4 separate regions of the Homo sapiens genome follow, and regions 1, 3 and 4 are each linked to region 2. The links come from fine-mapping of genetic effects on plasma protein levels. A gene starts in region 2. Each other region holds a variant in brackets. All regions are shown on one strand. Distances are from middle to middle.

Region 1 (8,102 bases), 61 kb before region 2:
GCCTTCTTGATCCATGCTGGCTGCCTTGGGATTGTTCCTTATTGGATGGTTTTGCTTTCAACAGACACTCCAATAAAGTACACGAAATAAAGAATAAAGTTAAACAGTCAGTCCTAGTGCTGTGTAGGTGGCAGTAAGTCTGGGAGAGCGACCTCAGCTGAACTAACCATGCTGTGCATCATTGTCAAGCGGGACCAGCAGGATCCTCAGGTCACCTGGCAGCAGGGGCAGGGAAGGGTCCCTAGAAGTGATCTTGAGTTGCACTTAGTGCTCTTGGCAGAGGGAAGGGCTCGGGCTAGCGCTGGAGGCATGAAGATGGGGTGTGTTCAGGGCTCTTCCGCAGTCCAGGCATGGGAAGGGGACGCTGAGGGCCAAAGGCTGAGGTGACACTGGGAAAGGAACTATAGGAAGGTAAGGACTGGCTTTCGGCCATGTGACTGAATTGCCTGTGTGTGGTGTGTGTGTATGTGTGCGAATGTCAGTGAACTGTGTGTGTGAACGTGAGTGAATTGTGTGACTGTGTTTATGTGTGGGTGTATATGTGTGTGATGTGAGTGAACTGTGTGTATGTGGGTGTATATGTGTGTGATGTGAGTGAACTGTGTGTATGTAGGTGTATATGTGTGTGAATTTGAATGGTGTGTAAATGTGACTGAGCAGTGTGAATTTGTGTATGTGGGTGTATGTGTGTGAATGAGTGAACTGTGTGATTTTGTTGGTGTGAATTGTGTGCCTGTGTGTGTGAGGTGTATGTGTGTGTGTGGGAGTGAACTGTGTGATGACTTTGTATTAATGTCAGTGAATGGTGTGGTTGTGTATGTGGGTGTATATGTGTGTGTATGTATGTGAATTGTGTGTGGGGTTGGTGTGTATGTGTGTCAATGTGAGTGAGTTGTGTGACTTTGTTGAATATGAGTGAGTTGTGTGATTGTGTGGGTGTATATGTGTGTATAGGAGTTAACTGTGTGACTGTGTGTAAATGTTATGATTGTGTGTGTGGGTGTATACGTGTGAATGTGATACATCGTGTGACTGTGGGTGGACGTGGGTGGATGTGTGTGTGAGTGTGGCTGTGTGTCGAACAGTGTGTGAGTGTAAGTGTGCAGGTGGTAGCTGTGGAATTAAGGCACATTAGGGGAATCCTTCCTTGGCTCTGGTCCTTGGTTTCCCTCCTATGAAACAAGTTGGGTGAATTAGGCAGTCTCTGGCATTCCAGGATTTGGTCTCAGGTCTAAACAGAATTTTGTAAAGTGAAAGCAGCATCCCTTGGGCATCCCGGGAGGTGTCCCTGCCCTCCATGGCTCACCGTCTGCCACATGGCCCAGCAGCAGCTACTCTGCAGGGCCATGTGCTGCCATGACAGGTACTGATCCCCATGGGCGCGGGCCTGCAGGTCCTGGAGGTACCAGTGGTCAGGTGCTTTGTACATGCAGCTCATATAGAGCAAGCTAGCCACACTGGGGGGACATGGCAGGGGCAGAAGACATGCCCTGAACACTCTTCAACCGTTTTCTGGGGCATTTTCACTATCCCCATGATGCAGAGGAGGGATGTGAGGCTCAGAGAGGTTAGGTAACTACCCAGGGTCACACAGCCCTACACGGGGCCAGACTGTCATCTCAACTAAGGGCAGCAAGGAAGAAACAAAATGTCATGAACTTCAGCAGGGGCTCAGGGAAGGCTTCCAGGAGGAAGGGGCACCCAGTGTGAGTCTGAAGAACGAGAGCATGTTGGATATCTCCCCAACATATCCAAAGTGTGGACAGGGCCAGGAGCAAGGCCAGCAGGGACAGAGCCTTCCAGGTGACATGGCAGCATTGCTTCCCACCCTGTCCCAACTCCCGTTCACCTATGGTGAAGGGTTGTGCAGTCTGACCCTCAGAGCTCATCATGCCTTTATGGGTGTTGGACCATCCAGTGATCCCAGGCTCTGAATGTGAATCCAGCTCCACCAAGGAGGCACTATGTGGCCTCGGTAAAGGACGCCACCATGCGGCCACCAACCTGGAGGCTGGTTTTGGCTTTCATTTTTCCCACCCACCTCCAACCCTTCAGCAAACCCTGCAGTTAGATTTCAATAAAAGTCAGAACTGACCACAATCCCCCGCAACCCTGCACCACCACCACCTTGGTCTGGGGCTCCAGCGCTGCATGCCAGATGACTGCAGTGGCTTTCTCACCCCTGCCAGGGGGATCCTTTACGACGTAAGTCAGATCACAGTTCTCCTCTGCTCAAAACTCTCCAACAACTCAATCCACCTGCGGTAAGAGCCAAAGCCTTCCCAGTGTCCCATGCTCCCCTCTGTCGTGACCTCCTGCTCTTCCTGCTCACTGCACCCACCCTGGCCCGTTGCTCTCCAGTCTGAACCCCATGCATTGTCCCACCTGGAGCCTTCGCCCTCACTCTTCCCTCCAGTGAGAACACCCTTCTCCTCATGCCTTGCACATTCCTACAGCTCCCTGCTCAGATGCCACCTCCTCCAGGGAGTCTTCCCTCAGCATCCTACTCATAATGACACACACCCCCACTCTTACCCTGTTTATTTTTTCCATGGCATCCATCAACATCCGATATGTTCCATGTTTACATGGGTTACTGTCAGCTCCCCCTTCTATTAATGGAATGTGAGATCCATGAGGAGAAGGACGCAGACACGTTCACTGCTCAAGCCCCAGGGCTTAAATGGGGTCTGGCCCTGGTGGATGTTTAGCAAATAGCCACTGAAGCTCGCTGAGTGGTCCCTCGACTCTCCAGGGAAACAGCACTTGCCCCACAGGATTTGTGGGCAAAATGGTAGCACTAAGATGCCTGGTACAGCCGCTCCTCGAAACTTAGCACTCTCCTTTTTTCGGAGGGGAAGGCTGGCGGTGAGGAGGCCCGGAAGCAGACTGGGCCCTGTGGCCTTGTGCAAGTCCCTCCCCTCCTCCAGCCTCAGTTTCCTCACTTGTACAATGCAGGAGGGGACTTCTATAACCCTTGTCAACACTGGGCACCTCTGCCTGCCTCCACCCATTCTTCACCCTGGGGCTGGTGCAGGGCCCACAGTCCATGATCCAAGCCATCAACAGTGAACAGACAGCCGACTGGCCCCACAAGGCCCGGCAGCAGCCCACGGACCGGTTACCTCTCAGCCAAGGTGAAGTCCCCATCCTTCAAGGCCCGGCACCTTCCTCAGGGGGTTCACCTGGGCAAAGGCATCGCTGTGCTGCTGGCCTGCAGGAAAGATCAGAGAGGTGAGTGGGGATAACCCAGAGTTCTCTGAGGTCTCTGCCCACCCCCACCCCAAAATCCCAGCAGCAGCTTTCTGAGGCCCCTATCTGGGAGGCATCAGGGAAGAGGAAGCCTCTCTGCTAGTCACTGGGTCACAGACCTTGACCCCATCAGAGGGCCATCTTTCCTGTGTCCAGCTCCTTGAAGCATGGCTCAAGGACAATTCCCTGGAGCTGTAATTCACACCCCACCCCCAGCCAGTTCCATCCATAGGTCAGACCCCTCCAGCCTCCTCCCTGGGCTCTAGGCTTGCCCCCTCTGATTCAGCTTCCTATCCCAGCTGGGGACTTAGGCCCTACTGGCCAGGCTGGGTGACCTGTCAATACCCCAGAGTCCCAGCCAAACATGTTCCCAACCCTCAGACCAACCTCATTCTTGCTGGGAATCCCTGCCCCATTCAGCTACTTAGCCTCCGGTGGCTCAGCTCTTCTTGCTTTCTTATGCCAAACTCTCAAGGCTCCCTCCCCAGTGGGGGTTCCCAGGTCTGACTCACTTTAGCACTCTAGGCCAGTGCTAGAGGCCGCATTAGGTGCCTGGTGTTTGGATCAGAGGACCTCAGTCAAGCCAGGCTCCAGTCTGATCATAGGCCTACATGTGGGCCTCTTTGCCCTTCTACTGAATGGACATACACACCCCTGCCCATTCTCCCTCCACAGACTGCTTCTGTGTCCAGCCCCTGTTCTGTAGCAGGTGACTCAAGCTGGTTGTACCAAGGGCAGCAGTTGGGAAGA[G/C]TCAGCTGAGCAGGGTCCTCCCTCTGGCCTGCCCAGGGGGCTCTGGCTCTGCTCTCTGCCCTACTGCTTAGTTATAGCCCTGCCTCCTCCACTGAATTGTGCTCCAGCTGCATCTCTGTATGCCAGCCAGACCAGCAAACGCTGGAGCTCAGGGTGAGGGTGCTGGCCTCCCCCACTGCCCTGCCACAGGGCCCTCCAGCCTCTAGCCTCTAGGAGTAGCCCCTTCAGCTGGGTGAGAAGCCCCATGGGATAGAGCAAGTCAGATGCAGGAAAAGGAAAAGGCAGAAGAATGCCAAGAAATACATAAAAGTGGAAGAGACCCAGGGCCAGACATGGTGGTGCATGTCTGTGATCTCAACACTTTAGAAGGAGGAGGCAGGAGGATCACTTGAGCTCAGGAGTTCAAGGTCAGCCTGGTCTACATGGCAAAATCATGCGTCTACACACACCAAAGAAAAAAGTAGCTGGGCACGGGGACGTGCCTGTAGTCCCAACTATTCTACTTAGGAGGAGTAAGTTGGGAGGATCACTTGATCCTGAGAGGTCAAGGCTGCAGTGAGCCGGGATCATGCCACTGCCCTCTAGCCTGGGCTGCAGATTGAGACACTGTAATAAATAAATAAATAAATAAATAAATAAATAAATAAATAAATAAACAAACAAATAATACAAAAGTGGAAGAGACACAGGCAGGGGTAGACAGGGACTATTTTACTTAGGAAACAACGAGGCAGTTTCATTGTTTTTTCCAAGCACATGGGGTGAAGATATTCTTGCCCCACTCCATTTCCCTACCCTCGTTCTGTGCCTGCTGTGCCCTCTCTAAACCTGTATTTTGAAGAATGTTTTGTATTCACAAGCAAAGATCAAGCCTCTATTAAAATAGACAACCAGTGGGGCATGGCGGCTCATGCTTGTAATCCCAACACTTTGGGAGGCCAAGGCAAGAGGATCACTTGAGCCCAGGAGTTCTAGGCCAGCCTCGGAAACACAGCAAGACCTCCTCTCAATAATAATAATAATAATAAATTGGCCAGGCATGTCGGTGGGCACCTGTAGTCCCAGCTACTTGAGGGGCTGAGGCGGGAGGATCGCTTAAGCCTGGAAGGTCGAGGCTGCAGTGAGCCATGATTGTGCCACTGCACTCCAGCCTGAGTGACAGAGTTAGATGCTGTCTCCAAAAAGTAAAAATAATAACATAGATAATTATGTAATAGTTTCCACACCGGAGAGTCTGATTCTTCGTGTTAGTCTGCATTCTTGGCCCAACTGCAAAGCAGCGGGGACAGGCAGGGATCCGCGGCCAATATCCCCTGGGCCTGCCTGCCCAGCCCAGCTTTGGTCAGCTCCACTGTGCGAAGCTCGAAGGGGATGCCATTCTTGGCGAAGATGTAGACTGAACGGCAGGGCTGGGACAGCAGACCCATGGCGGGGGCAATGGGGTGGGGCGTGGGAGGGCAGACCTAAACCCAGGGGACGGGCCCTGGGGACAAACCCGGGGACAGGCCCGGGAACAGGAACTGCGGGCAGGAATGGCTGGTTGGGGGCGGCGGACAGGAACGGCTGGGGGTAGGTGAGGGTTGGGCAGGAACTGCTGGGTCACCGAGCCTGCAGCGGTGCACCTCACCAGGAGCCCCGAGTCCGGCCACGCCCTCTTCACTCATCCCTTGGCTCCTAGAACTTCGGGTCAATCAGTGGCGTGTCTGCTCTCTCACCACCCCTTTCTGGGAATCTAGGCTGCAGGTATATTTCCCACTAAAAGGGAAGAGGAGAGGCTGGGCGCGGTGGCTCACGCCTGTAATCCCAGCACTTTGGGATACCGAGGGGGGCGGATCACGAGGTCAGGAGATCGAGACCATACTGGCTAAAACGGTGAAACCCGTCTCTACTAAAAATACAAAAAATTAGCCGGGCGGGGTGGCGGGCGCCTGTAGTCCCAGCTACTCGGGAGGCTGGGGCAGGAGAATGGCGTGAACCCGGGAGGCGGAGCTTGCAGTGAGCCGAGCTCACGCCACTGCACTCCAGCCTGGGCGGCAGAGCCATACTCCGTCTCAAAAAATAAAAAAAAAGGAAGAGGAGAAAGGAGGTGCAGCAGCCTCCTTGCCCAGTGCCTGGGCCCAGTGCCCAGGACGGAGGCCAGAGAGGAAGGGTGGCTGACTGCCTGCGGGGCTGCCAGCCCCACACCTCATGAAGGAATGAGCTGTCCCTCCCCAGTTGCTGGGGTCATATTTGTTACACTCTAGCTAACGCCTCCCCGAGATGGCTGAGGCCCTGTGAGGCCTATCCAGAGGTTTCCAACAGTGCCTGGCATTGCACAGTAAATTAATCACCATGACACGAGTTTTGCAAAAGAGAAAAGATTTATTCACAGGGCACCAAGCAAGGATGTGGGATAGTAGCTCTCAAATCCACCTTCCCGAAAATAAGGCTTAGGGATAAGCCTTGCTTCCAAGCAGTAGAGCACAGGCCCCAGCCACGCTCCAGGGTAGGGGACCATACAAGGATGTGAATAGCAGTGTCGGCCTTGTGGGCCTACAACGCAGAAGGGCCATGCACTTGGTTTAAAGCTTTGCTGTTGCCATCTTAACATTCTTAACAAGTTAAAAATAAGGGTCCCCACATTTTCATTTATAGCCAGTCCTGTCCAAGGAGTTCAAAGATCTCATGAGGGTGGACAGGGCACTGTCTGCTCTGGGCAGTGATGGGACCACTAACAGTTGTTCTCCAGTCTCCCAGCGCCTACCCCAGGGCCACACCTTCCCCTGGGCTCTACTATTCTTTTTTTTTTTTTTTTTTCGAGACAGGGTCTTGCTGTTGCCCAGGCTGGAATGAGTGCAGTGGTACAAACTTAGCTTACTGCAGCCTCAACCTGGGCTCAAACAATCCTTCTGCCTCACCCTCCCATGTAGCTCAGACCACATGCGCATGCCACCAGTCTGGGCTAATTTTTTGACTTTGTAGAGACGGGGTCGCACTTTGTTTCCCAGGGTGCTCCCGAATTCCTTGGCTCAAGTGATCCTCCCACCTCAGCCCCCCACAGTGCTGGGATTATAGGTGTGATCCACCACCCCTGGCCTCTCTCACATTCTTGACATTTAAAGTTACCATCATTGACAAGGAACATGGGTACACTCCAATTTACTCAAGAAAAAGCTCTTTTCTCCATTGAAGAGATATGTGGCCTAACTGCTTCCTACTCTAGTTGAGTCTTCTTGTTGTTTCCTTTTTCTTCTTCTCTCTTGTTTTTTAGAGACGAGGTCCTGCTGTGTTGCCCAGGCTGGTCTCAAAGTTCTACCCTCAAGAGACCCTCCTGCCTTGTCCTCCCAAAGTGTTGGGATTACAGGTGTGAGCCACTCTGTCCAGCCTCAAACTGTGGTCATTAGATCAGCAGCAGTAGCAGCCTTGCCTGGGAGCTTGTTAGAAATATACTAACAGGCTCCCACCCCCAAACCCAGACCTACTGAATCAGACAGAGTTTATTTTCATAAGATCCTCAGGTGATCCAAATGCACCTTAAACTTTGAGGAGCTTTGATCCAGAACCTGAGGTGGAGGCCCCTGGGGGCCACTCTGTTCCTCACAGACTGCAAGATATGTTTTTTTCTTGCCTCTTCTCTCTGTCCCAATGTCTCCTTCTCTCTGTGTCTGACCCTGAGGACCCTATGACATCCTCCCAGGGGAGTTTCCACTGCCAAAGGCCTGATTCTCTAGAATCTGATGGGCTCCTCTAGACACCAATCTCTACCTGGGCTCTTGTTGAAGAAGCCAATCAGCTCATTGGTTGGAGATCACGTGATATACAACATGGCTGCCTTCCAAGCCTTATGTGTGGACAAGGAGATAGGGACAAGTAGGCATATCATGTTCTGATACCTGGGCCATCGTCTCTCCTTAGGCCCCCAGGATACACGTTTATGGGGAGTTTTCCTCCCTTCCCCCAATATGGTCACTCATAACTTTACACCCACCAAACAGGAGTGGAAGCTACAGGGTTTCATGTAAACAATAGGCTAGGCTGTGGGGCTGAGTAAAAGGCACTGGACTGTGGTAGGTCTTACTCCAAGATGGCCAAATGGAAGGGCTTTTAGCTTTCTTTGTTTT
Region 2 (8,093 bases):
GGCTCGCTGGAGCCGCCGAAGGCCATGAGCTGGTCCGGGACCACGTGCACCGCGATGTACTGCGAGGAAAGGGCGCGGTCAGCCCGCCCCAGCGACCTCGTCGGGCCCCGAACGTCCACTTCGGGCCCGAGCCACCGTCCTCCCCCCGCCCCGCCCCCCAGCTCCGTTCAGGAGTCGCCTCCCCAGCTCCCAGCGCGGAACCCCTCGTCCGGTGGGCACCCCCCTCTTCCTGTCCCCTCCCGGCAAACCTGGGGGGGCTTGCCGGTGGCCTGCGCCAGCTGCTGGGTGAGCTCGGAGAGGAACCCGTCCGGCACGGAGGCGCGGGGCACGTTGGTGTTTACGATGAACATCGGCATGATGGCAGAAGGACCAGGAGACCCGCGCAGAGGCACAGACGCACGCGCCGCGGCCGCCGCTGAGCTACGTGCCTGACTTCTCGGACACCACTGTGGTCCCGCCTTTTGTGACGCCACCGCCGGCGCCAGGCCCCGCCCCCGCGAGGCTGCGGCTCCGCCCCGAGTGGGGAAGTCACCGCCTGCCTCGGCTCGACCCCCGCAGGGCAGGACCCTGGGCGACTCCGCCCGTTCCTCCAGCAACCGCCGCTAAGCCCGGCGCACCGCTCCAACCTGTTCTCCACTTGGCGGCTAGAAATCGGCCTGTTCCGGCCTCGCCTCGGGTCTTTCTTAGTCCTTTCACTAAGTCACCGATGTTAGTCGCCAGGAGGCGCTGTGCCGGGGGTGGGGATGCGGCGGTGAACCCGGAAGATGGCCCCTTACCCTTCCAGAGATGAAGCCCAGTTCATTCCACTGCACGCACTGAGCCCCTGTACCTCCTGTCTTTGGGCCACATGTCCTCAAGGGCTCCAGTCCCGCATGCGTGAGCTTGTGTGTTTGAGATGGGGCGGGGTAGTCATCGCGGCAGGTGAGAGGGGAGCTGCCCCTGCGAATCACCATCCAGGGAACTTCCCTGAACCCCTGCTCTTTAAAGAGGATAGGATGCTGGGAGGCACCGAAGGGAAGGAGGCGAGGTCCAGAGCAGGTTCAGTGGTTCAAACGTGCTCAGCTCCCCTTCTCTGGGCCTCTGGGCAACTTCAGCTCCTCAGGGAAGCCACACCCTAGTCAGGTCCACCGTGTATGGCCTCTCATAGAGCCCTTGGTGAATTTCTTAAATGTCTTTTCCACTAATGGTAAACTCGGGGACCATCTAGCAGGTGCCAGGCATACAAGAGACATTGACTAATACTGCTGAATGAATGAATGAATGAATGGGTGAAAGAAGATAAGCCATGACATAGCAGGAAGAGGACAAGGCAGCAACTGGATCACAGGCCAGGTCCTCAGAGATTTCCAGGGAGGTCCTGTCCTTGGTCTCTGATAGGTGCAATCCATATACCAGTCTCAGTGAAGGCCATGTGATATAGGAAGGACACCCATGCCTGTGGGACCCTCGTGGCACCAGCCAGCCTCCAGCTGGGAGGCCCCATGGCCCATTTATACAAATAGCCTATGGGTATTGGTTCCTGCAGCTGGGCCCCAGACTCTTTCCCTCCTGGTGTCACACCTTCTCTTACCTGTGCCCAGGGCTCCCTAACTGATGGCACTCCATACCATGTCTCCAGCCAGGGGCACTCCCCTAAGTCCCAGGCGCTGACAGCAGCTGACTGAGTGTCCACTGCTCTGTAAAGTCCAAATGTATGACTTGTCCTCCTACACCTCATCACCTGCCAGTAAAATATGCTTCCTTTCACTATCCCTTTATTCCCACTTCTCTCCATTCCCTGAACTACCGCCTAGTCTACACTACCTGCATCCCCTTTGGCCTGGACCACTGTGACTTCCCTATGGTGGACTGCTGCTCCTCAAGGGAGGAGTCTGTTTCCAGCCCCAGGCAGCAGAGTTAGCCCCGACTCCCTGTGCCCTATGAAAGCTGAGCAGAATTACATAAGTCACTCCAGGCAGAAGACTGAAGAGCCAGGGCCTGGTTGACCTGTGCCCTGTGAACCTGAATGACAAGGTGCAGCCTCGCCAGCAAGCACATGAGCTGCCCCTGGAGGTGAGCCCCTGCCAATCTCAGGTTGTTACCATAACAAAGGGTTGCCTTACCTGGCCAGTGACGGAGCAGGAGCATTGCCATCTTGAACAAACACCACCATTCTAAGTTCCCCCTTAATTAAAAGCCGCCTAAATCCAGCCCGAAAATATCAGCCTAATAGCTAATGTCAGCATAACCAGAAACATTCCAACCCTAAGATAAACCCTTCTCTGACCAGAAACATGCCAACCCGGAGACAGCCTCCCTTCTGACCAGAGACATTCCATCCCCGCAATAAACTTTCCCTCACACAGAAACATTCAGAACCTATGATAAGAACCCCCTCCAAAACCCTTAAATATCCTTAGTTTGTAAGAGAGTGTGGCTCTGACCTAACTTGGCCAGAAGCCCCTCTCAAGTTTGTTTTCCAAAATAAACCTGTCCTTGTTGACTGTCGAGCCACCCTTGGTGTTTCTTTCCTCTTTAATTCTTATAGCCAGGACAGCCTCTGAGCCACTTGTCATCTCCTTGTACCCTCCCCAGCTGTTTCCAGTGGCAGTCAGCCTCATCCTTCTAGAAGGGTACCCAAAGAAGTGATATGATTTGCCTCTTACTAGCATGGACATTTGGCTCACTTTCCCCATCTGTAATTTGGGGATGACAATAGTGTTCACCTGACATAGAGGTGTTATGAGCACCAAGTGGCCTAAATGCCAATGACAGTCTCCTCTGATACTAGGGGTAGTACTGTCACAAGGCCCTGGGGTAACCCGGTCCCTGTGAGCCTCCGCCAACCCTCCCTGGTTCTCTGAGTTATGGCGCACTGTCCTTCAGTACCATGGCTCCTGGCTCCAGGGTTGGGGGTTGGTTCTGAAATCCAGTTTGCCCACATTTTCCCTCATCTGACTCCAACTCATCCTTCAGTTCTTGGCTCAGCCTTAGTTCCTTGGGAAAGCCCCCGGAGCACCTGGCTTGGTCCATTCCCACACGTGCCCAGTACCTGTCCTGTCCTTCGAGGCTATCTCCATATTTCTGAGTTAAGACTGCATGTCTAGGCGGTAAACTCCATCCCAGTGGGGACAGTCTCTTTTTGGGCATTGCTGTATGCATACCTCCTGACCCCTTACCTCCGTGGTAGGCAGATGACCCCCTGCCCACTAAAGAATAGCAGGGGGAGGACAAGCACTAATCCCTGGAACCTACAAGTATGCCATGTTACCTGGCAAAAAGCACTTCACAGATGCAATTAGGATTATGCATCTGTGCATAATAGGGAGATTAGCATGGAGCATCTGGGTACACCCAATCTAATCACATGAACTCTTAAAAGCAGATAATTTTCTCCAGCTAGAGTGCCAGATTCCAAGCAAGAGAAACACTCGATGTCCATTACCGGCTTTGAAGATGAAGGGGACCAGAGACCTCATGGTACAACCACAAGGAACTGAATTCTGCTCACAACCAGATTGAACTTGGAAGTGGATTTTTCCCTTGTCCCTTCAGATACCTTGACTTTGGCCATGCGAGTCCTTACACAGAAGACCTAGTCATGTCACGCCGGACTACTGACCCACAGAAACTGTGAGATAATAAATGCGTGTTGTTTGAAGCTGCTAAAAATTTGTGTTGATTTATTATAAGAGCAAAAAAAAAATAATACACCTTGGGACCCATAGGGACACAATAATTATCCGCTAACCATGGACAAATGCGCTAGGAGGCATTGGCAGGCATGGCTGCTGACTCCCTCTTCCTCCTCATGGCAGCATCCCAGATCTGTTCGTTAGAAGGTTCACTGCCCCAGAGTTCCTGCCACCCAGGTGTGGCCACCTCATCTCCCACCCCATCCCAGCACATCCAGCTGGAGGCACAACTCACCTCAGCTTCCTCACCCCTAGGCCTCTGAGGAAGCATTTTCATGGTCTGATTCCAAAGACAGCGGTGTGTGTGTGTGTGTGTGTGTCCATGTGTGTGCGCGTGCACGTGTGTCCACATGAGTGCTCACATGCACTATGAGCCTATGAAGCTAGAGTAGCTGAGAAGTCACCATCTAGCCCTGGAGTGTGCACCCAGACAGGAGCCTGGGCTCCCCGGGCAGAGTCATCTCTCTCCAGGTGTTTGATTCTCTCTAATCTTCAATGATTCCCTGCTACCTGCAGAATGAACCAGAGAATGGGGGCAGAACACGACCCCTGAAGAGCGCTGGCTCAAGCTGAGCTCCACTGCTAATCCACAGGGTCACTCTGGACCCCTCGGGTGGCCTAAAGGCCTCCTCAATAAAATGGAGATCAAGGAGATCAGGAAGCACACAGACTCTAGACTACACTTCCCATGAGCACTCTGAATGATCAGCACCAGCGCGCCACGGACCTCAGGTACCAGGCGAGGTCCCAGACGCAGCGTGTGCAGTGATCAAGGTCTGGGGTCCATGGTCACCAGGTCTACTCCTGGCCATTCCAGTTAGCTGTGTGACCCTGGACAAGCCACCGGCTTTTACTCAGTCTCTCATATGTACAACAGGGGTAATAAAAGTACTAATTTCATGGGGTCCTTTCCAGGATTAAAGGAGCTAACACTTGGAAGATACTCAGAATGGTCCTGATACATAGAAAGCCCTCCATAGATGTTATCCCTGAACATTGTTGTCACTGGGAGACTGTTTTGCAAGGTAAGGACCACCGCCATCCTCACAACCCTGGGCACAGCCTGAGGACAAGGACTGAGGCGGAAGCCTCTGGATGTAGTGGACCCTAGGTGGATATGTGTAAACTGAAGGGAAAAATGATTCAGCTGAGGCACAGAGTGATCTGGGTCCCAACAAGAGGGAACCAGAGACTCAGAGGGTCCAAGAAAGGAGAGGATGAGAACAAATACAAGAGAATGGACAACAGCCCTTTGGAGGCTGTGCAAGCCCAGATCCTTGTGAGCGCCGCCTGGATCCCGGCAGCCAGGCAGCCAACTTGAGCCTGCCAGATGGGCGGGGCCCTGTCCCCTGGCCCTGGGAAGCTGGGACATGTAGGTCCTGGTAATTAGCAAATGAGGGAGGGATTCGGGCTAGGAGAGGGGCTTGACCACATGCTCTGGGAGGTGGGGAGAGGCCACACTGGGTCTGGGGTCTGGGGAGGTGGGCTGGAGCTGGGGAGCATGGCTGTGACTCCTCTCCAGCTACATGGGCTAGACATCAATGCTCACACCTGGAACGCAGTCTCAGCAGAGGCAGGTCAGCTCCCACCCTGGACCACCCCCTAGAAACCCAGTCTGGCTCTCTCACCCCTCTCTGCACTGCCCTTCCTTGTCTTCAAGGTCCTGTCCTGAGACCCTGTCTCCTCTCCCTAACTGAGGGGCTCCCTGCGTAACAAGGGACTTGCAACCCCCACCCCGCCCTCCCAGAGTGGCCAGAGCCAATTCCGGCTGGGTGGGTGGTGAGTGAGAGGGCAGGGCTCAGGCTGGGGACCGGGGCACCATGTGTGTCCGAGGCAGGCCGGGACCTGGGTGTCACCTGATGCCTGCTCTGCTCGTGGCACGTACCCCAGGATCTCAGGGGTGCTTGTCAATGGATTCTTACTCATGACTCCACGTTGGAGGTCTGCAGCCAGGGCGGCCAGGGAAGCCATTTGGAGCACAAAGGTAAGCTGGGGAGCAGGTCAACAGAGGCAGGATCAGGGTGGATGGACACAGAGGGGCAGAGTGACCACACACAGGGCTCCTGGGAGGGCTGCCCCTGCCTCCTGAAGACTCCACAGTGACTGGACACGGTAGCTTCATTCCCATCCTGCAACGCTGCTGCCTCCCAGTGGCTCCAGCTTTTTTTTTTTTTTTTTTCTTTTTTTGGTAGAAACAAGGCCTCGCTCTGTGGCCCAGGCTGGAGTGCACTGGTGCAATCATAGCTCACTGTAATCTCCAACTCTTGGGCTCCAGAGATCCTCCCACCTCAGCCTCCCAAGTAGCTGGGACTACAGGCACATGCCACCAAGGCTCTAGCTTTTAAAAGGCCCCCAGCTGAGCCTATCCTTAGGAAGCCAGCTCAGAGTCACCTTCTCCCTGAGACCTCTACTGACACCCTGACCCAGAGATTTCTCTCTCCCCAGAGAACCCACAGCCCCACCACTTCTCTTTAACAGTCACTGTTTCCTGACAAAAGCCAAATTCTTTCTTATACAACAATAGTCCACTGATTTTCTTTATTTAGGCACCAAAGTAAAATAATGAAGAAAAAATGGCTTTTTTTAAAGCAAATGGTACTGGTACGACCAGATAGCCATTTCAAAAAAAAAGAAAGAAAAGAAAAAAGGGCCAGTCATGGTGACTCATTCCTGTAATCCCAGCACTTTGGCAAACGAACGGCTTGAGTCCATGAGTTCAGGAACAGTCTGAACAACATGGCAAAAGCCTGTCTCTACAAAAAAACAAAGAAAAACAATAAAACAAAACAAAACAAAAATTAGCCAGGCTAGCCGGGCGCGGTGGCGGGCGCCTGCAGTCCCAGCTACTCGGGAGGCTGAGGCAAGAGAATGGCGTGAACCCGGGAGGCAGAGGTTGCAGTGAGCCGAGATAGTGCCACTGCAGTCCTGCCTGGGCGAAAGAGCAAGACTCCATCTCAAAAAAAAAAAAAAAAAAATTAGCCAGGCATGGTGGCACGCATCTGTAGTCCCAGCTACTTAGGAGGCTGAGGTGGGAGGATTGCTTGAGTCTGGAAGGTAGAGGTTGCAGTGAGCTGAGATCACGTCACTTGCACTCCAGTCTAGGCAACACACAGTGAGACCCTGTTCCCCCCACCCACCCAAAAAAAAGGAACCTCAGCCCCTCACACCATACCCAAAAATTAACTTGAAATTCATCATCAGCAACATAAGTGTAAAAGCTAAAACTATCCAACATTTGGAAGAAAATCTTTGCAACATTGGGATAGGCAAAGATATCTTATGGCACAAAAAGCATGAATCACAAAAACCAAAAACTGATAAATCAAACTTTACCAAAATAAAAATTTCTGTTCGGCCGGGCCAGGTGGCTCACGCCTGTAATCCCAGCACTTTGGGAGGCCGAGGCGAGCAGGTCACGAGGTCAGGAGATCAAGACCATCCTGGCCAACATGGTGAAACCCCGTCTCTACTAAAAATACAAAAAAATGAGCAGAGCATGGCAGCACGTGCCTGTAGTCCCAGCTACTCAGGAGGTTGAGGCAGGAGAATTGCTTAAACCCAGGAGGCAGGGCTGCAGTGAGCCGAGATCGCGCCACTGCACTCCAGCCTGGGTGACAGAGCGAGATTCCATCTCCAAAAAAAAAAAAAAAAAAAAAATTCTGCTCTTAGGTAGCATTAAGAAAATAAAAAAGGCAAGCTACGGACTGCAGGAAAATATTTACAATACTATATATTTAACAAAGTACTAGCTTCCAGAATGTATAAAAAATGCCCACATTTAAAAAATAATGACAACCAACCTGATAAAAATAGCAGATAAGGGCTGGGTGCGGTGGCTCATGCCTGTAATCCCAGCACTTTGGGAAGCCAAGGTGGGTGGATCACTTGATGTCAGGAGTTTGAAACTTGCCTGGCCAACATGGCAAAATCCCATCTCTACCAAAAATACAAAAATTAGCAGGGCATGGTGGCTCACGCCTGTGGTCCCACCTACTTGGGGGGCTGAGGTGGGAGGATCGCTTGAGTCCAGGAGGCAGAGGTTGCAATGAGCTGAGTTCATTCCACTGCCCTCCAGCCTGGGCGACAGAGAACCCTGTCTCAACAACAACAACAAAAAAAAGTAGACAAAATATTTGAACAAATTATTCATAAAAGAAAACCCACAAATGGCCATACTGAGCACATGAAAAGATGTCAAACATTATTAGTCATTAGGGAAATACCACAATTAAATGACAAGATACCACTACACACTCACTAGAATGGCTAAATTGAAGAGACTGACAATACCAAGTGCTGATGAGGATCTGGAGTATCCAGAACTCATACATTATTAATGAGAATGTGAAACAATATAATCAACCACTTTGGAAAACAATTTTTATACAGTTAAATATACATTTATTATTAAGCCCAGCA
Region 3 (8,102 bases), 90 kb before region 2:
TAAGATGTTATCAATGACAATGGTGCCCGAAACTTCATTAGCAATTTTAATTTTGCCTCGGTCCTGTGATCCTGTGATCTCGCCCTGCCTCCACTTGCCTTGTGATATTCTATTACCCTGTTAAGTACTTGATGTCTGTCACTCACACCTATTTGCACACTCCCTCCCCTTTTGAAAATCCCTAATAAAAACTTGCTGGTTTTTGTGGCTTGTGGGGCATCACAGATCCTACCAACGTGTGACGTCTCCCCCGGATGCACAGCTTTACAATTTCTCTCTTTTGTACTCTGTCCCTTTATTTCTCAAGCCGGCCGACACTTAGGAAAAATAGGAAACAATCTACGTGATTATTGGGGCAGGTCCCCCAATAGAGTGGCACATGGTGGGCACAGGTCAGGCATGGGAAATAGGCCCCAAAGCCACAAGACATGTGGGCAGGTAGCGCAGTGTGTGTCTGGAACATCCTGTTTATTGGTCAGCAGTGACATCTACTGTCACATTTGAGAACTGCATCCACAGCCACATGGCCTCCTGTGAAGACCTCAGGGCAAACTGGGGAAACCTGCCCTTCTTGGAAGGTGATGCTAGGGGGGATGAGCAACACCTTTCTTGGAGGTTTGAATTCTTCAGGGCCCCTCCAGCATCTTGGTCTTCCTAATTCCTCCCTTGATCCCCCAGCCCTAGGGGTGGTAGCTTCTTGCAGTGTTTACCTCCGTGTTAATCTGGATTCTCTCTGTCTTCGGAGTTCTCTAATGCCTGGTTACCAATTCTTTATATCAAGTTCTCTCCGTTAAAATCATTGTGGTGGGGTCCATCCCATGGATATACATGGAGGTCTGTGTGACAATGTATAATCTTACTATTTGCAGTTATTACAAAACTGTCCTAGAAGACATGAATGCTTGTTAAAAGAAATCTTTTAAGTTTCCTAGACTTCAAAGACCGTTGCTATGCCCTGTGAAACATCGCCTATATCCTTTAACAGTTTGCAATTCGAATTGGTTACTTACTTAACATTTTGTTGCCCTGGTGATACAATTATGTTGACTCGTTATTGTGAGGTTACTTTGTTATTAACCATGATGAGGATTACTAGCACATACTTTTACTCCATATGTATAACACAACAATGTAGTAAAACCAATAACTCTTGGTTCTCTATTCAAAGTGTTTGGAATCTTTATTCTGTTTAAAACACTGATGACATTTGCCAATTTTTGAGTGTTCTTCATGTTACTGATTTGTAGGAGCTCTTTATATATTGCAGATTTAGTCTCTTACTGGTTATGTATGCTGCACCTGAGGAGTAGCAGCACTGCCAAGGACACTGAGTGTCTTGTCTGTGCAGAGCTTCACATGAAGCTGGAGAGAAGGGACTGGGGCAAGAGGGAAAGATAAAAAGGGGCAAGTAAGTAACAGAATGAATCCTTGTTGCTAATCTCCTGGCCCCCATCCCAGACCCTTCAGGGGATCCTGGCGATTCGAAGCAGCATAGCCTGATAGGCCTCTGGTGAGGGTGTTGGGAGGGTTTTCTTGGCCGCCTGTTCCAGGATGCTCAAGATGATGCTGTGGGCCTCCTGGCATAGCTCAGCACCCAGGAAAGCCTCCACTCATCCACGCCATGCTGCCAGTCGTGGCCGTCCCTCAAACAGTTCATAGCCGAGAGCCACCGGCTGTAGGGACAAGGATGAAAAAGTTGTGGGCATACAACTTTCCCAGTTGTCACTGCCGACCCGAATGCTGGAACCATGGGCAGAAGTATCAGAGACATGGTCCATTCCCCAGCCCCTAAGTGAATGGACCACAGGGGCCCAGGCAGTATGTTCAGCCTTAGAGCCCAAGAGCAGCCAGGGTGAGACCCCACACCCAGGCAGGAGGCAGAAGTTCAGGGTTCTGGCCCCAGATCATCCAGAGACTTGCTCTATGATTCTGGGCAAAGTTCTGGCTTTCTCCAGGCCTCAGTGTTTCTGTCTGCCTCATGGGTGTGACACGAAGAGGGACACTGCCCACAGGCTGAGCTCACACCTGCATCAGCTCCTCCAGGGCCATGAGATCAGCCAGTGTCACCTGCTGGCCAGCGAGGAAGGGCCTGTCCCCCAGGAACTTGTCCTCCAGCCATTGCAGGGCCTGGTCCATGGCAGTCCTGTTGCGTTCCACCTTCTCCTCGGGCACCTGGACCCCAATGAGTGGCCCCAACATCTGATGGGGGCAGAGAGTGGGTCAGTCTATGGCCCCGGCCTACTGCCAACTACTCCCTGATGGCCAATCACTCTCCAGATGGCTCTCCTCACCTGGACCCACAGGGGTATACCAAAGGTGCCACGGATGCAGTCGGCATGCCAGCCCAGGTACTCATGAACACGGGCACGAGCCTGCAGGTCAGATGGATACCAGTGGTCCGGCGTCTGGTACTTACAGCTCAGGTAAATCAGGATGGCCGAGCTGGGAACAAATGGGCAGTGGCTATAAGGACACTGGCACCAGGCATTTACCCCTAACTGCTCCCATCTGCCAGTGGGGCCCGGGGGCTTCTCTGCATTTGAAGGACTGCCCTCCAGCCTCGCCCTCCATCTCCAGCTCCCCAACACCACCCCCTCCTCCTACGAGTCTCCTCCTGTCTTTGTTGCCTTGGGCACCGACTCTTGGCTGGACCTTCTGCTTTGCATTTTGAGAACCTCATCTCTGTGATATGCCAGCAGCCGCCCTGTGAGGTAGACACTCCTGTTAGCCTTTTAGCACAAGAGAAAACTCAAGGTCAGAATGGTCAAGTGACTTGTCCGAGGCGGTGCAGCTCAGAATAGGCTCCCTGGACCCCTGGAACCCTGCATGGGGCTGGCACACAGTGGATGCTCCGTGGAGTCCCTTGCATGTCCACGCGCTTGGGTCAGGGATCACGAGGGGAGGAATGTCTTTGGCCCCCGTCTGACAGGCCCCCAGCCATCACCTCTGCAGCCACCTGACCTCTTGTCCTTTTCCTGCCCAGCAGCTGGACCTCACCATGAGCTGTGCCCTTGGGCCATGGCATTGGCCTCTAGGCCCGGCCTGGGTAGATTGGGTAGTCTGCGACAAGTCACTAGAGGCTCTTTTCAGCTAGCATTTGTTGAACAAATGCGCAACAGTGGAAAAATGTTCCCTTGTCTTCTCTTCTAATACCCTTCAGTCTGGGAGTGGAGAGGCCCTGCGGCTCAGAAAAGGCTGAAGATGAGAGGTGGGGGGACATGTTCTGTCAGCCCCTGCTCATCCCGGACACACCCCAAGCTGTACCTTCTCCCCAGATACCTCTCCTTTCTTTCTTTCCTTTTTTTTTGAGACGGAGTCTCCCTCTGTCGCCCAGGCTGGAGTGGGCTCCCTCTGTCACCCAGGCTGGAGTGCAGTGGCGCGACCTCTGCTCATTGCAAGCTCCGCCTCCTGAGTTCACGCCATTCTCCTGCCTCAGCCTCCCCAGTAGCTGGGACTACAGGCGGCCGCCACCACGCCCTGCTAATGTTTTGTATTTTTAGTAGAGACAGGGTTTCACCGTGTTAGCCAGGATGGTCTCGATCTCCTGACCTCGTGATCCGCCCACCTCGGCCTCCCAAAGTGCTGGGATTACAGGCGTAAACCACCGCGCCCGGCCTTTTTGAGACGGAGTCTAGCTCTGTCGCCCAGGCTGGAGTGCAGTGGCGCGATCTCAGCACACTGCAAGCTCCGCCTCCTGGGTTCACACCATTCTCCTGCCTCAGCCTCCAGAGTAGCTGGGACTACAGACGCCCGCCACCACGCCCGGTTAATTTTTTTTTCCATTTTTAGTAGAGACGGTGTTTCACGGTGTTAGCCAGGATGGTCTCGGTCTCCTGACCTCGTGATCCGCCCGCCTTGGCCTCCCGAAGTGCCGGGATGACAGGCGTGAGCCACCGCGCCCGGCCAGATCCCTCGCCTTTCCCCTCCCTCGCTGCCCCATGGGGTATGGGAGGGCCATTGGGGCCCGGGGCCAGTGGGGAGAGCCAAGGTCACATGGGCTCCGGATGCGGTGAGGGGTGAGGGAAGGAGGGCATCTTTCGGTCAAGATGAAATCACCATCCTTGAGCGTCGGCAGTTTCCCCAGGCTGTTGATCTGCAAGAACTCCTTGCTCTTGTGCTGCCCTGAAGAAGAAGAAGTCAGAAAAGGTCTTCAGAGTAAAAACGCTGCACCTCTACACCCTCCCTCCTCCTCCCCAAGCGGAGCCCCACAGCCCTGAGAAACAGCAAGGTCTGGGACTAGAGGCCTGGATCAGCCTCACTCCCTGGCTGGGCCTCCCTGCCCTGCCACATTCCGGGGCAGCTGGGGGGTTTTGGTGGGTGGGGCCAGGTGCAGCAGGTGGATAAAGAGAAGTTTTCTAGCCGGACTCTGGTGGGCCAGGGGAGGGGAGGCAAACTGGGGTGGCTCATCTCTTCCCATCTCTTAATTCTCACAACAGTATGTCCTTCTTCCCGAGGTCTTCTGGGCTTTGTGAATTTATATGCGTGCATTCCACGCAAGAACTCTGTCAACTCCATTCAGTATTTTCTTTCCATCCCTACAGAGCAGAAGGTAAC[A/G]TTATCCTCCTTTTCAGAAGGCAAGCTAAGGTTCAGAGAGGCTGTGATCCCTTCAAGGCCACTCAGTCCACAGCATTCTCTGGTGGCAGACGCTGCAGGAGGAGGTGAGGGGGCTGTGCGGGCGGCGAGACGCTCAGGGCAGAGCAGGGCGGGGGCCTGGGGGTGCACTGGGTTTGTGGACACGCGGGGAAACGGGCTGGGCCCACCTTTGACCAAATCCACGGTGCGCAGCTCTAAGGGGATGCCATTCTTCTTGGCGAAGATGTAGACGGCGCGGCTGGGCTGGGACACCAGGTCAAGAAACAGCTCTAGGCCCATGGCGGGGGCGGCAAGGACAGCGGGGATGGCAGTGAAGGCGCTGAGCGCGGTGTGGGCAGCAGCTGTGGCAGGATCCCGGCGCGCCGGGAAATAGGGGATCAGGCCCCACCCCCTGGGGACAGCACCCAATTGGAGCGCACCACCCCCGGACCCGCCTCGCCCCTTCGGTTCCTGTCCAGTCCTGCCGGCCAAGACTCCACCACCAGATCCGTGCGTCCCTACAGGGAGGGCGGTCGCTATGAACGCACAGCTGGGAGGGTGGAGTTGGAGCTGGGGACCCTCGACTGGCAGGGAGGACGCGGATGCAGGGGGCCGACTGCAAGGGGAAGGGGAACCGGCTGGACAGGGAGAAGCAGGTCTGCTTTTCGGGATCCCGGTGCCAGGGACCCTGCCCAGTTCCAGGCGTCGCCCTGACCCAGAAACGACTGGGCGCCGCCGTCCTGGAAAGGCCCCAGCGCACGGACATCTGAGGGTTCGTTCAGAGCTCTGTTTCTCGGCGCTGCATGGTGGCGGAAGGGAGGGAGCGAATGGGATCCCCTAAAAGGGATCTTAGAGTTTCACCCAGTGGGATGTGACACTTGCAGGTGTCCCAAACTGGTGGGAACCTTGACTGGAAGGCTGGGGTTAAGGATGAACTTTCTGCCGTCCAGACTGTCCCCTGCAGAGCAGCTGCTGCCAGACAGCGGGAGCTGCCAGACAGCGGGAGCTCCCACTTCGTGCACAGGATGGGGGCAGGGAGCCCGCAGCCGCGGGAGGCAGGAATGACTGTCCGGGAACCTCCTTTCTTCTCCCTGAATCCCAGCCCTGGCATCTCACCAGGGGGCACAGTGATGGTCCAGGGCTGGGCCCGGGACTCTAGCTGAATCTTTCAGAGTATCCCATCCCTCTGGCCAGTGGCCCAAGCGAGTGAACCAGAATGCTTCCTTGGGAGTTTTGAAACTGGAACTGGAGAGAGGAGCTCCCTATGGGGAGGTAAACGGGAGCTGGGGCCACCTGTAGTGACATTTCCTGAGTTCGAGGAGTAGACGAGACTGAGAGAGAAAAGCTGACTCAGAGAAAGGGAGTGATAACAGGGCATGCTGGCCCACACCTGCAATCCCAGTTACTCTCACGGGATCTGTTTCTCTGATGTCTGGGTATGAAAGGACTTTCTAAGCCTCAGAACAGTGGGAGAACTCAACAAAGAAAAAACCAATACATATACAAGGTTACTTTGTGGAGGAAAAAATGGATTAACCTTAAGCAAAAAACTGGGAAGGATCTCGGTAAAAGATACGTCAGAAGGAAGTAATGTCCTTTAAGATGTTCTTAGAAACCCATCAGACAGGTAGGGTGTGGTGGTTCACGCCTGTAATCCCTGTACTTTGGGAGGCAGAGATGGGCGGATCAGTTGAGGTCAGGAGTTTGAGACCAGCCTGGGCAACACGGTGAAGCCCCGTCTCTACTAAAAATACAAAAATTAGCTGGGTGCGGTGGCACACTCGGGAGGCTGAGACAGGAGAATCACTTGAACCTTGGAGGCAGAGGTTTCAGTGAGCTGAGATCATACCACTGCACTCCAGCCGGGCCACTGAGCGAGACTGTCTCAAAACAAACAAACGAACAAACAAAAAGAAGAGAAACTCATCAGACGAAGACACAGGAAAAAAATGAGCGAAGGAAATCAGCAGAGGTTTCATTGAAGGACAAAGAGAAATGGTCAATACATGGATGAAAACATGTTTAACTTCAGTAATAATCAAGGAAGCACACACCAACACAACATGCACATACTGTTTTTATTTATCAAAGGCACACATATTTTTGAAATGAGTACTCCTAATTAATATGTACAGAGCACTTACCCAGTGCCCAGCACAGGGGTGGCACCCTGTGTGTGAGACAGCATGAAACAGGTAGACACGCGCCCTGCTGAAAGTAAGGGACCGCCTCTCTGGAGGATCCATCGGGCAATAAGGAGGTTTCCACACCTTAACTGTGTCTGCCTTGACCTCTGGGGCCTGGGAGCAGAGCCCCCTCCAGCTGGTGGGGAAGGAAGCGTGGTGTGTTTGAGGACAGAATGGAGAGAAGTTGAGTAGAGCAAGTGTAGACTCTTCCTATCCAAAGTGTGGTCAATGGACTGGGAGTATCAGCATCACCAGGGAGCTTGTTGGAAATGCAGAGGCTCAGGCCCCACTCTGACCTTACTGATTGGGAGCATAAACTGTAACCAGATTCCAGGGAGGATTCATACACACATTCCCGTTTGATAAGTGGGGGGTAGTAGGAGGTGAGGTGAAAAGTGGGGAGGGGATGGCTACCGCACTGGAGAAGGCTGGCTTTGTGTTGAGGCCTTTCTCATGAGGGCAGTGGGGAGCCATGGAAGGCTTTATGCAAGAGAGGGTACGGGCAGATTGAGATTACAGAAGGATCCCACTGGTTGCCTTGTGTGAGGACCCAGGGAGAAGGGGGAGGCTGTCCCTGTTTGAGTAGGAGATGAGAGCTACTGGTGGCTATGAGTGGAAAGAAGTGAGCAGAGGTGAGCAGAAATCCCAAGGACTGGTGATGATAGGATGATGGTGGGAACCAGGATGGGCTTTGGGCAGACCCTGACCCCTCTCTCTGCCTGTCGGCCCACCAGATAATAATCCCTGTGTTCCTGGGCGAGTCAGTGCCACCCGAGATGTTGGCGGCCACTTTGGCTGAGCTGGACGGATGCCTGCAGCTGCTCGAGGACAAGTTCCTGCGGGACCAGGCCTTCCTTACTGGGCCCCGTATCTCTGTGGCTGGCTTGGTGGCAATCACGGAGCTGAGGCATGAGAGTGCCATGGGGTGCGGTGGCCCGCTGGGCAGTGGTGTATCCGGGAAGGGAGCTGACATCCCAGCTCATGTTGTCTTTTCTGGCTGTGGGACCCTGTGTGAGTCACTTCTCCTTCTGAGCCTCAGTGTCCTCATCTATAAAATGGGGCTTTACAAACCCCTCACCGCAGCTATATTAAGAGGCTTCCAAGTGTCCCCAGGGAGGGGGACATCCTAGCCCATCACACACATGGTGGAGGAGGGAAAATCCAATCAGAGAACCCCTAAAGCAGGTCATGCTGCCTTACACTTGGCTATGCCCAGCCCCTCCGCTGACTCTGTCTTCCCCTAGCCCATCAGTGCTGGCTGCTGAGTCTTTGAAAGCAGACCCACGGTGGCAGCATGGTGCCCAACACGTGGAGGCTGCAGTGCGGGAGGACTTCTTCCAGGAG
Region 4 (8,102 bases), 110 kb before region 2:
TTCAGAACTGCAGTGAACTCTGATTGCGCCACTGCACTCCAGCCTGGGCTAGGATAGAGCGTAGCATCACTACGATACCATTAAGATACCTCATAAAATTAACAATAATTCCTGGATTTCATCTAATATGTGGCTCCTGTTCAAAACTCTATGATTATCTCCTAAACATTTTCTTGGCAGTTTGTTTGGATCAGGATCCAAAGAAGTTTTTTTTTTTTTTTTTTTTGAGACGGAGTCTCGCTCTGTTGCCCAGGCTGGAGTGCAGTGGCGCTATCTTGGCTCACTGCAAGCTCCGCCTCCCGGGTTCACGCCATTCTCCTGCCTCAGCCTCCTGAGTAGCTGGGACTACAGGTGCCCGCCACCATGCCTGGCTAATTTTTTTGTATTTTTAGTAGAGACGGGGTTTCACTGTGTTAACCAGGATGGTCTCGATCTCCTGACCCCATGATCCCCCCGCCTCGGCCTCCCAGAGTGCTGGGATTACAGGCGTGAGCCACCGTGCCCAGCCAAGAAGTTCTGAGTCTTGCAGCCAGTTGCTGTCTCTCCTGCCACTTTTTAACCGATAGCTCTCTCCATGCCCTGACCTTTTTACCTTGGCATGGTTGCTGCTGGTGATGATAAAGGAGCCCTTGTTCTGCGGAGGTTCCCACACCAGCCATCAATCAGCAAGGCCTAGGACATCCCCTCCGAAGCATGTCTCCCCTCCATCCCCTTCCCTCTGTCCCCATGGCCTCCAACATTCCCAGACACCACAACCTTCCCGATAGTTGCTGGCCCCCTCATTGTCCATTCTGCCCCCTCGGGCTCACCCTCCATCCAGCACCAGAGAGATGGATCCTTTCATGCCCTGGCTTATATAATGCCTAATCTTAAGCATTAAGTCCATAACCTCCCTGCACCTCCAGGGGCTACCCTACGTGGACTCCACAGTGTCTCTGGCTGCCTCATCACTCCCCAATCACCCCCACCCTTCTTCCAGTTGCAACCCCCTACTCTCTTTTCTTCAGATTTACCTTGCTCCCTTTACCCTCGTATTTCAGCATGTGTTTTTCTTTGTTGGTTTTTTGAGACAGAGTCTTGCTCTGTGGCCCAGGCTGGAGTACAGTGGCACAATCTTGGCTCACTACAACCTCTGCCTCCCAGGTTCAAGTGACTCCCGTGCCTCAGCTTCCCAAGTAGCTGGGATTACAGGTGTGTGCCACCACAACTAGCTAATTTTTGTATTTTCATTTTAGTAGAGACAGGGTTTCACCATGTTGGCCAGGCTGGTCTCCAACTCCTGGCCTCAAGGGATCTGCCCCCATTGGCCTCCCAAAGTGCCGGGATTACAGGTGTGAGCCATCGTGCCCCCCCGTTTTTGTTTTTGAAAAAGGATCTTGATCTTTCACCCAAGCTGGAGTGCAGTGGTGTGATCTTGGCTCACAGTAGCCCCAAATTCCTGGGATCAAGTGATCCTCCCACCTCAGCATCCCAATTCAACACGTGTTGTTCCCCCTGCTGGCCTACTCTTTGTTATACCACCAGCCCCCAACTCCTACTCACCCCGCAGGGCTCCTTCCCAGCCCTTACTGACTGTCAGACAGACAGCTCTGGTGAAGGTCTTTCTCGGGGCCGTTTGGGCTCCTCTTTGCTCTGGAAGCCCCAGCAGTTGGGCCCAGGCCACACCGGGGTGGTTGATGTAGTGGCACTCAGGAAGGCAAGGGCAGTGCCCCTGACCGGCCCCTTCTGCAGCGCGGCCATCCTTTACTACCTGTGCCGCAAGTACAGCGCACCATCGCACTGGTGCCCGCCAGACCCGCACGCACGTGCCCGTGTGGATGAGTTCGTGGCTTGGCAACACACGGCCTTTCAGCTGCCCATGAAGAAGATAGTCTGGCTCAAGGTGAGCAGGGCCACTTCTGGGGCTTGGGGACACGGGCACAGGGAAGTCAGGAAGGCTGGAGGCCAGTTCTGGCCCTGCTGACTGCCGGCGACCTCAAGCAAGTCTCCCTCCCTCTCTGGGCCTCATTTCCTCAGCTCCTTCTCCTGCCCGCCTTACAGAGCCGTCAGGAGTGTGGACTGAAACAATGGGCATGAAAGAGTCTTATTAGGGCGAGGGGAAGGGCATACGGGAGGGGCTGATGTGACTCACCCAGGACAGCATTCGAGGCATTTCATTCTGAACTAGAGAATCTCAGCGTCAAAAGGCCCACAGAAGGCCGGGTACGGTGGCTCACAACTGTAATCCCAGTACTTTGGGAGGCCGAGGCGGGCAGATCACTTGAGGTCAGGAGTTCAAGACCTACCTTGCCAACATTGTGAAACACCATCTCTACTAAAAATACAAAATTATTAGCTGGGTGTGGTGATGGGCACCTGTAATCCCAGCTACTCAGGACGCTGAGGCAGGACAATTGCTTGAACCCAGGAGTTGGAGTTGGCAGTGAGCCAAGATTGTGCCACTGCACTCCAGCCTGGGCGACAGAGTGAGACTCCATCTCAAAAAACAAAAACAAAAAAGAGTATGGCCTATAGAAAATTAGAAGATGACAAATAACCAGTACATGTGTCTCTACTTTGAATTCTATGCCTGTGACAGACATCACTAATCAATCACAGGACTTATGCCTGCTGAGCTCCCCAAATCCTTGTGAACACATGGTTCCCAGCAACTTCCACCAATCAGAACTGCTAAAAGAGGTGAAACTGCTTTATATCCTGGGAAGTGTTCAATATCTATCCAGCAGACAAGAGTACAGAGACCTGGCAGGGCAGGTGGCCCTGGAGTGCAGCCTCCTCTTCCCTCCTCTTCCCAACCCTGGCCAGTTGCTGATCCCAAAGATAACAGGGGAGGAAGTTTCAGCTGAGAAGATGGAGCATGCAGTGGAAGAGGTGAAGAACAGCCTGCAGCTCTTTGAGGAGTATTTTCTGCAGGATAAGATGTTCATCACCGGGAACCAAATCTCACTGGCTGACCTGGTGGCCGTGGTGGAGATGATGCAGGTGTGGAGTGGATTGGAGGAGGGTTAGACCCTGGGCAGAGGTAGGACTCCTCTGTGACCAATGGGGCCATCACTTGAGGATAGGCTGGTGAGGCGGGAAAGGCAGGCAGAGCTGCCATGGGGGCTGCGGGAACCAGGCCTGGGGGCCTGGACTCAATCGGGGCAACAGGAAGCACAGAATGTTATGAATCAGGAAGGATCACAGTTCTCCACACTTGACAAAGATTCTTCGGTGTGGGAGGACCCGGAGGGTGAGCCTGGGATAGAGAAGAACACTGCATTTCCTGCTCAATCCACCGGCATCCCAGATACCTCCTCCTCTTGCTGGACTCTCCAGGAAATGTTCACTGGCTTCCTGGGTGTCCTTCTGGCCCTGCCTGTTTCCCAGAGCTCCAGACAGACAGCTCTGGAGGACAGCTCTCGTGGCTGGGTCTGAGGGGCATCCACTGTGCATTTGGAGGCACACCTGAGTGTGGGGCATTTATGTGGCCTCTACATGCAGGGGAGGGTGACCAGTTCTGCTTGTCAAGACACTGGCCAGGGTCTCAACTGGCCATCCTGCACACCAGCTAGGGCACTGCACACTGACCAAAGAGACTAATTTGCATATCAGCCAGAGATATGCCCGAGAGGAGGGACCTGGGGTCCTGGTGGATTGACCAGAAAATGCAGTATTCTTTTCCTTATCCCAGAGATCTCTGGCTGATATGAAAATTAGTCTCCTTGGTCTGTTTGCAGGGCAGACCAGCACCAGGAAAAATCATTCTGGCCTGCCCCAAGGGTTCAGCCATATGCTTCGTCCCCACCCCTTACATTTCACCCACACACACCCATTCTTGGGCTTCCCAAAGATCTTGGGTGCAAACCAAACTCTTAGTAAGCCAGCGAAACTGCAGGGTAGACTGCCCGCCAGGTCTCCCATCCTAGCCCCTGAGCTTGATCACAGTGGGAGGCTAAACATGGAGGAAAAAACCTGAGTTCTCTCCCTCATCCACATATACACACCTGGGATAAGGGGT[C/T]TCCCTGGAAGAAGGCAGGATTCATGCGAGGTCGCAGGCTGGAGAAGTGGGAAGTGCCTGGGCCAGGAGCCCTCTCAGCATGGTTCAGAAGGCTTGGAGCAAGAAGACCAGTGACTGAGGACTCTGAGGGATTCTGGATCCTCCATCCCCACCTACATCTATTACATAGTCTGTGACCCCTTGCTCAGGCCTTGGGGGTCAGCAGCCTAATTCTTTGCATAGGTAGATGTTAGGGACGTGGGCCTGAGGCTGTGGGAGAGGACCCAGGTGGGGCTGGTCCCCAGGCTGACCACGTCTTTGTCTTCGTCTATCTACAGCCCATGGCAGCCAACTATAATGTCTTCCTCAACAGCTCCAAGCTAGCTGAGTGGCGTATGCAGGTGGAGCTGAATATTGGCTCTGGCCTCTTTAGGGAGGCCCATGATCGACTAATGCAGTTGGCCGACTGGGACTTTTCAACATTGGATTCAATGGTCAAGGAGAATATTTCTGAGTTGCTGAAGAAGAGCAGGTGACCCTAGGCGCAGCCTGTCCCGCAGGGCCTGGCTGGCTTAGCAATCTGAGCCACCTTCCTTAAAGGAAATGTTAAAAAAAAAAAAACAAAAAAACAAAAAAACAACTGTTCTTTGCCTAATAAAGAACTGGAACAACCATCACAGCTGCTGAGCAGCAGACAGTTGGCATATGCATAGGGTCTGATGTGGGAGTGGGTGGTGGTTACAGATCCTTCCAGTTTCCAAAAAGAATTTTAAAAGTAAAGGGTTAAATATGGTTACATTGTGAGTAATAATAGTTGGTGACTTCAATACCCCACTTTCAGTAATAGAAAAACTACAGAAGACCATCAAGGAAATAGGGAATTTGAAAAGCACGATTAACCAATCGCATACACTAGACATGAACAGAACGTTCCACCCGACAGGAGCAGAATAAGCATTCTTCTAAAGAGCACATGGAATATTCTCCAGTATAGAGCATATATTTGGTCCTAAGTCTCAAATTTAAGATGATTGAAATCACACAAAGTATGTTCTCTGGACACAGTGGAATAAAGTTAAAAATCAAGAACAGAAGGAAAACTAGAAAACTCACAAGCACATAGAAATTAAACAGCACACTCTTAAACAACAAATGGGTTAAAGAAGAAATCACAAGGGACATCAAAAAGTATCCTGAACAAATAAAAATGAAAACACAACATGCCCAGATTTATAGGATGCAGCAGAAGCAGTTCTAAGAGCAAAATTTATAGCTGTAAACACATAAGTTAAAGAAGAATGATCTTGAATCAATAACCTAACTTTACACCTTAAGGAACTAGAAAAATAAGAGCAAACTCAACCCAACACCACTAGAAAACAGGAAATAATAAAGATTAGAATGGAGATAAATGAAATAGAAAATAGAAAAGCAATAAAATCAATAAAACCAAAAATTGGATCTTTGCAAAGATCAACAAAATTGGCAAACCTTTACTTAGAATAGCCAAGTGAAAAAAATAAGGGTCAAATTATTCACCAAGAAAGAAAGTGGAGGCTGGGTGCAATGGCTCACACCTGCAATCCCAGCACTTTGGAAAGCAGAGGCAGAAGGATCACTTGAGGCCAGGAGATTGAGAACAGCCTGGGTAACACAATGAGACTTTTTTCTAAAAAATATATTTTTTAAAAAAATTAGCTTGGTGTGGTGGTGCAAGCCTGTAGTCTTAGCTAACTGGGTGGCCGAGGTGGGAGGATCACTCGAGTCCAAGAGTTCAAGGTTACACCGAGCTATGATTGCACCACTGCACTCCAGCCTGGGCACATAGAAGAACCTTATCTCAAAAAACAAACAAAAACAAAAATGAAAAAATGAAATGGAAACCAGAAAGAAAGAAAATGGAGACATCACATTGGTCATAGAGAAATTCAAAAGTTTAGAAATACTATGAATAACTATATGTGGACAATTTAGACAACCTAGATGAAATGGGAAAATTTTAGAAACACACAATCTACCAAAACTGACTTAAGAAGAAAGATAAAATTTTAATAGGCCTGTAACAAATAAAGAGATTAAAATATTAATTATTTTTAAAAATTCCACAAAGAAAAGCCCAGGACCAGATGGCTTCCCTGGTGAATTCAACCAAAAGCTTGAAGAACTAACACAAAGCCTTCACAAACTCTTCCAAAAAAATAAAACAGGAAGAAATATTTTTCAACTCATACTATGAGGCCAGAATTACTCTGATACCAAAGACAGAAAAAGACATTACAAGAAAATAAAGTTACAAAGCAATATCCTTATAAATATAGATGTAAAAATCCTCAGCAAAATATTAGCAAATCAAATCCAGCAGCATATTAAAAGGATCATACACCTTGACCAGGTAGGATTTATCCCAGGAGTACAAATGCAGTTCAACATACAAAAATCAATCAGTGTAGCATACCATGTTAATAGAAAGTCACATGATCATCCTAATGCACAGAAGGCATTTGACAAAACCTAACATCCTTTTACGATAAAATTACTCAGCAGATGAAGACGAGAAAGGAACTTCCTCAACTTGACAAAAAGCATCTATGAAAAACCTATAACTAACACCATACTTCATCCATTGTGAAAGATCAAGCGTTTCCCCCCTAAGATCAGGAACAGGACAAGAATGTTCATTCACACTACTTCTACTTATTAGGGCAATTAGGCAAGAAAAAGGAACAAGGTGGAATCTAGATCAGAAAGAAAGAAGTAAAACCATCTCTATTCACAGATGACATTACAGAAATTCTTAACTCACTTAAAAACCATTAGAGCTAATAAACAAGTTCAAGGCTGGGCACGGTGGCTCACACCTGTAATCCCAGCACTTTGGGAGGCCAAGGCGGGCAGATCATGAGGTCAGAAGTTTGAGACCAGCCTGTCCAATATGGTGAAACCCCGTCTCTACTAAAAATACAAAAATTAGCCGGGCGTGGTGGCGCATGCCTGTAGTCCCAGCTACTCAGGAGGCAAAGGCAGGAGAATCACCAGAGCCCAGGAGGTGGAGGTTGCAGTGTGCCAAGATCAAGCCACTGCACTCCAGCCTGGGTGACTGACTGAGACTCCATCTCAATAAAATAAAATAAGTTCAGCAAGGTTGCAGGGTACAAGATTAATACACAAAAATCAATAGTATACATTTGCAATAAAGGATGAAAAACAAAATTAAAACCACACTTCCATTTATAATACCATCAAAAAGAATAAAATAGAATAAATTTAACCAAAGAAAAGCAACATTTCAACACAGCAAACTACAATGTGCTGTTGAAAGAAATTAAAGAAGCGCCACCAAGCAATCTGACCTGAGAAAACATGCAGGTTCAACAGAATGAGTCCTGCTCTTCAGCAAGCACCCATCTTGTGTTCAAGCTGGGTCTATGAGGCAAGTTTGGCAACATAGACATGGACATGCCACCAAATCTGTAATGTAGAAAAGGCCAAGGGAAGGTGGATCAATCATTGGAAACATTCAACAATCCATGGAAGAAATGTTAAAAATAGAATCTCAGGGTCTGATGAAGTTGGAATATCACTCTTCTATGTATTTCGGTTGGAATCTGTTGAACGATTGGATAAAGTAAAAGTATAGGGAATTATTAGGTAGCATTAAATGTGTAATAAATGTAAAGAGAGGGTGCAAGTGCATACAAGGAAGTGTACGCTACTGGGTTTCTGTTGAATTGTTCATGGAAGACCATCAGCAGTTCAATTCCAAAAGCTTGTCTTAAAATTAGCTGGGTGTGGTGGCGTATGCCTGTAATCCCAGCTACTCAGGAGGCTGAGGCAGGAGAATCGCTTGAATCCGGGAAGCAGAGATTGCAGTGAGCCAAGATCGCACCACTGTACTCCAGCCTGGTGACAGAGCGATACTCTGACTCAAAAAAAAAACAAACAAACAAAAAAAAAACTTGTCTTGAGGGACTACGCCAGCCTTAACAGCTACAAACATCATGGAGGAAGCTGTCTGCCCATTAGAAGCCCAGAGCCCAGAGGGACAGACTAGAGCAAATCCTCTCCCTCATTGGAGCTAGATGGGAACACAAATCTATCTGATAACTAACATGCAATTTTACAT

Direction of the effects. Alleles are on the strand shown, and positions count from the first base shown. The strength of an association depends on the size of the effect and on how common the allele is.
For the plasma level of the protein whose gene starts at base 448 in region 2, allele G in region 1 goes with a lower level than allele C (strong association).
As copies of A replace G in region 3, the plasma level of the protein whose gene starts at base 448 in region 2 goes up (strong association).
For the plasma level of the protein whose gene starts at base 448 in region 2, T is the high allele of the variant in region 4 and C is the other (strong association).

The links. PIP is the chance, under the fine-mapping model, that this variant and not a neighbour inherited with it causes the effect. Protein levels are from antibody-based Olink assays in UK Biobank. Linkage for the fine-mapping came from a reference panel and not from the study's own genotypes, which makes the PIPs less certain.
Region 1: its variant is fine-mapped to the plasma level of the MIF protein (UK Biobank, PIP above 0.99).
Region 3: its variant is fine-mapped to the plasma level of the MIF protein (UK Biobank, PIP above 0.99).
Region 4: its variant is fine-mapped to the plasma level of the MIF protein (UK Biobank, PIP above 0.99).

What each region holds. Positions count from the first base shown.
Region 1 is chr22:23,947,245-23,955,346 of GRCh38, reverse strand. No RefSeq gene overlaps it. Among named protein-coding and RNA genes, the nearest start is that of GSTT2B, 9.9 kb to the left of the region's middle. RefSeq lists enhancers at 1-71, 2,306-2,997, 2,998-3,689. The variant G/C (reference allele first, on the strand shown) is at 4,003.
Region 2 is chr22:23,886,738-23,894,830 of GRCh38, reverse strand. It overlaps MIF (macrophage migration inhibitory factor), which reads right to left and starts at 448. Exons shown (of 3, transcript NM_002415.2): 1 at 249-448; 2 at 1-59. The coding sequence starts at 356. MIF-AS1 (MIF antisense RNA 1) reads left to right here. Exons shown (of 3, transcript NR_038911.1): 3 at 1-1,121. RefSeq lists enhancers at 1-773, 6,175-6,469.
Region 3 is chr22:23,976,968-23,985,069 of GRCh38, reverse strand. It overlaps a transcript of DDT not described here and the pseudogene GSTT2. Among named protein-coding and RNA genes, the nearest start is that of DDT, 6.6 kb to the right of the region's middle. The variant A/G (reference allele first, on the strand shown) is at 4,555.
Region 4 is chr22:23,994,955-24,003,056 of GRCh38, reverse strand. GSTT4 (glutathione S-transferase theta 4) reads left to right here. Exons shown (of 5, transcript NM_001358664.2): 3 at 1,732-1,882; 4 at 2,806-2,982; 5 at 4,318-4,656. The coding sequence ends at 4,515. Among named protein-coding and RNA genes, the nearest start is that of GSTT4, 6.4 kb to the left of the region's middle. The variant C/T (reference allele first, on the strand shown) is at 4,001.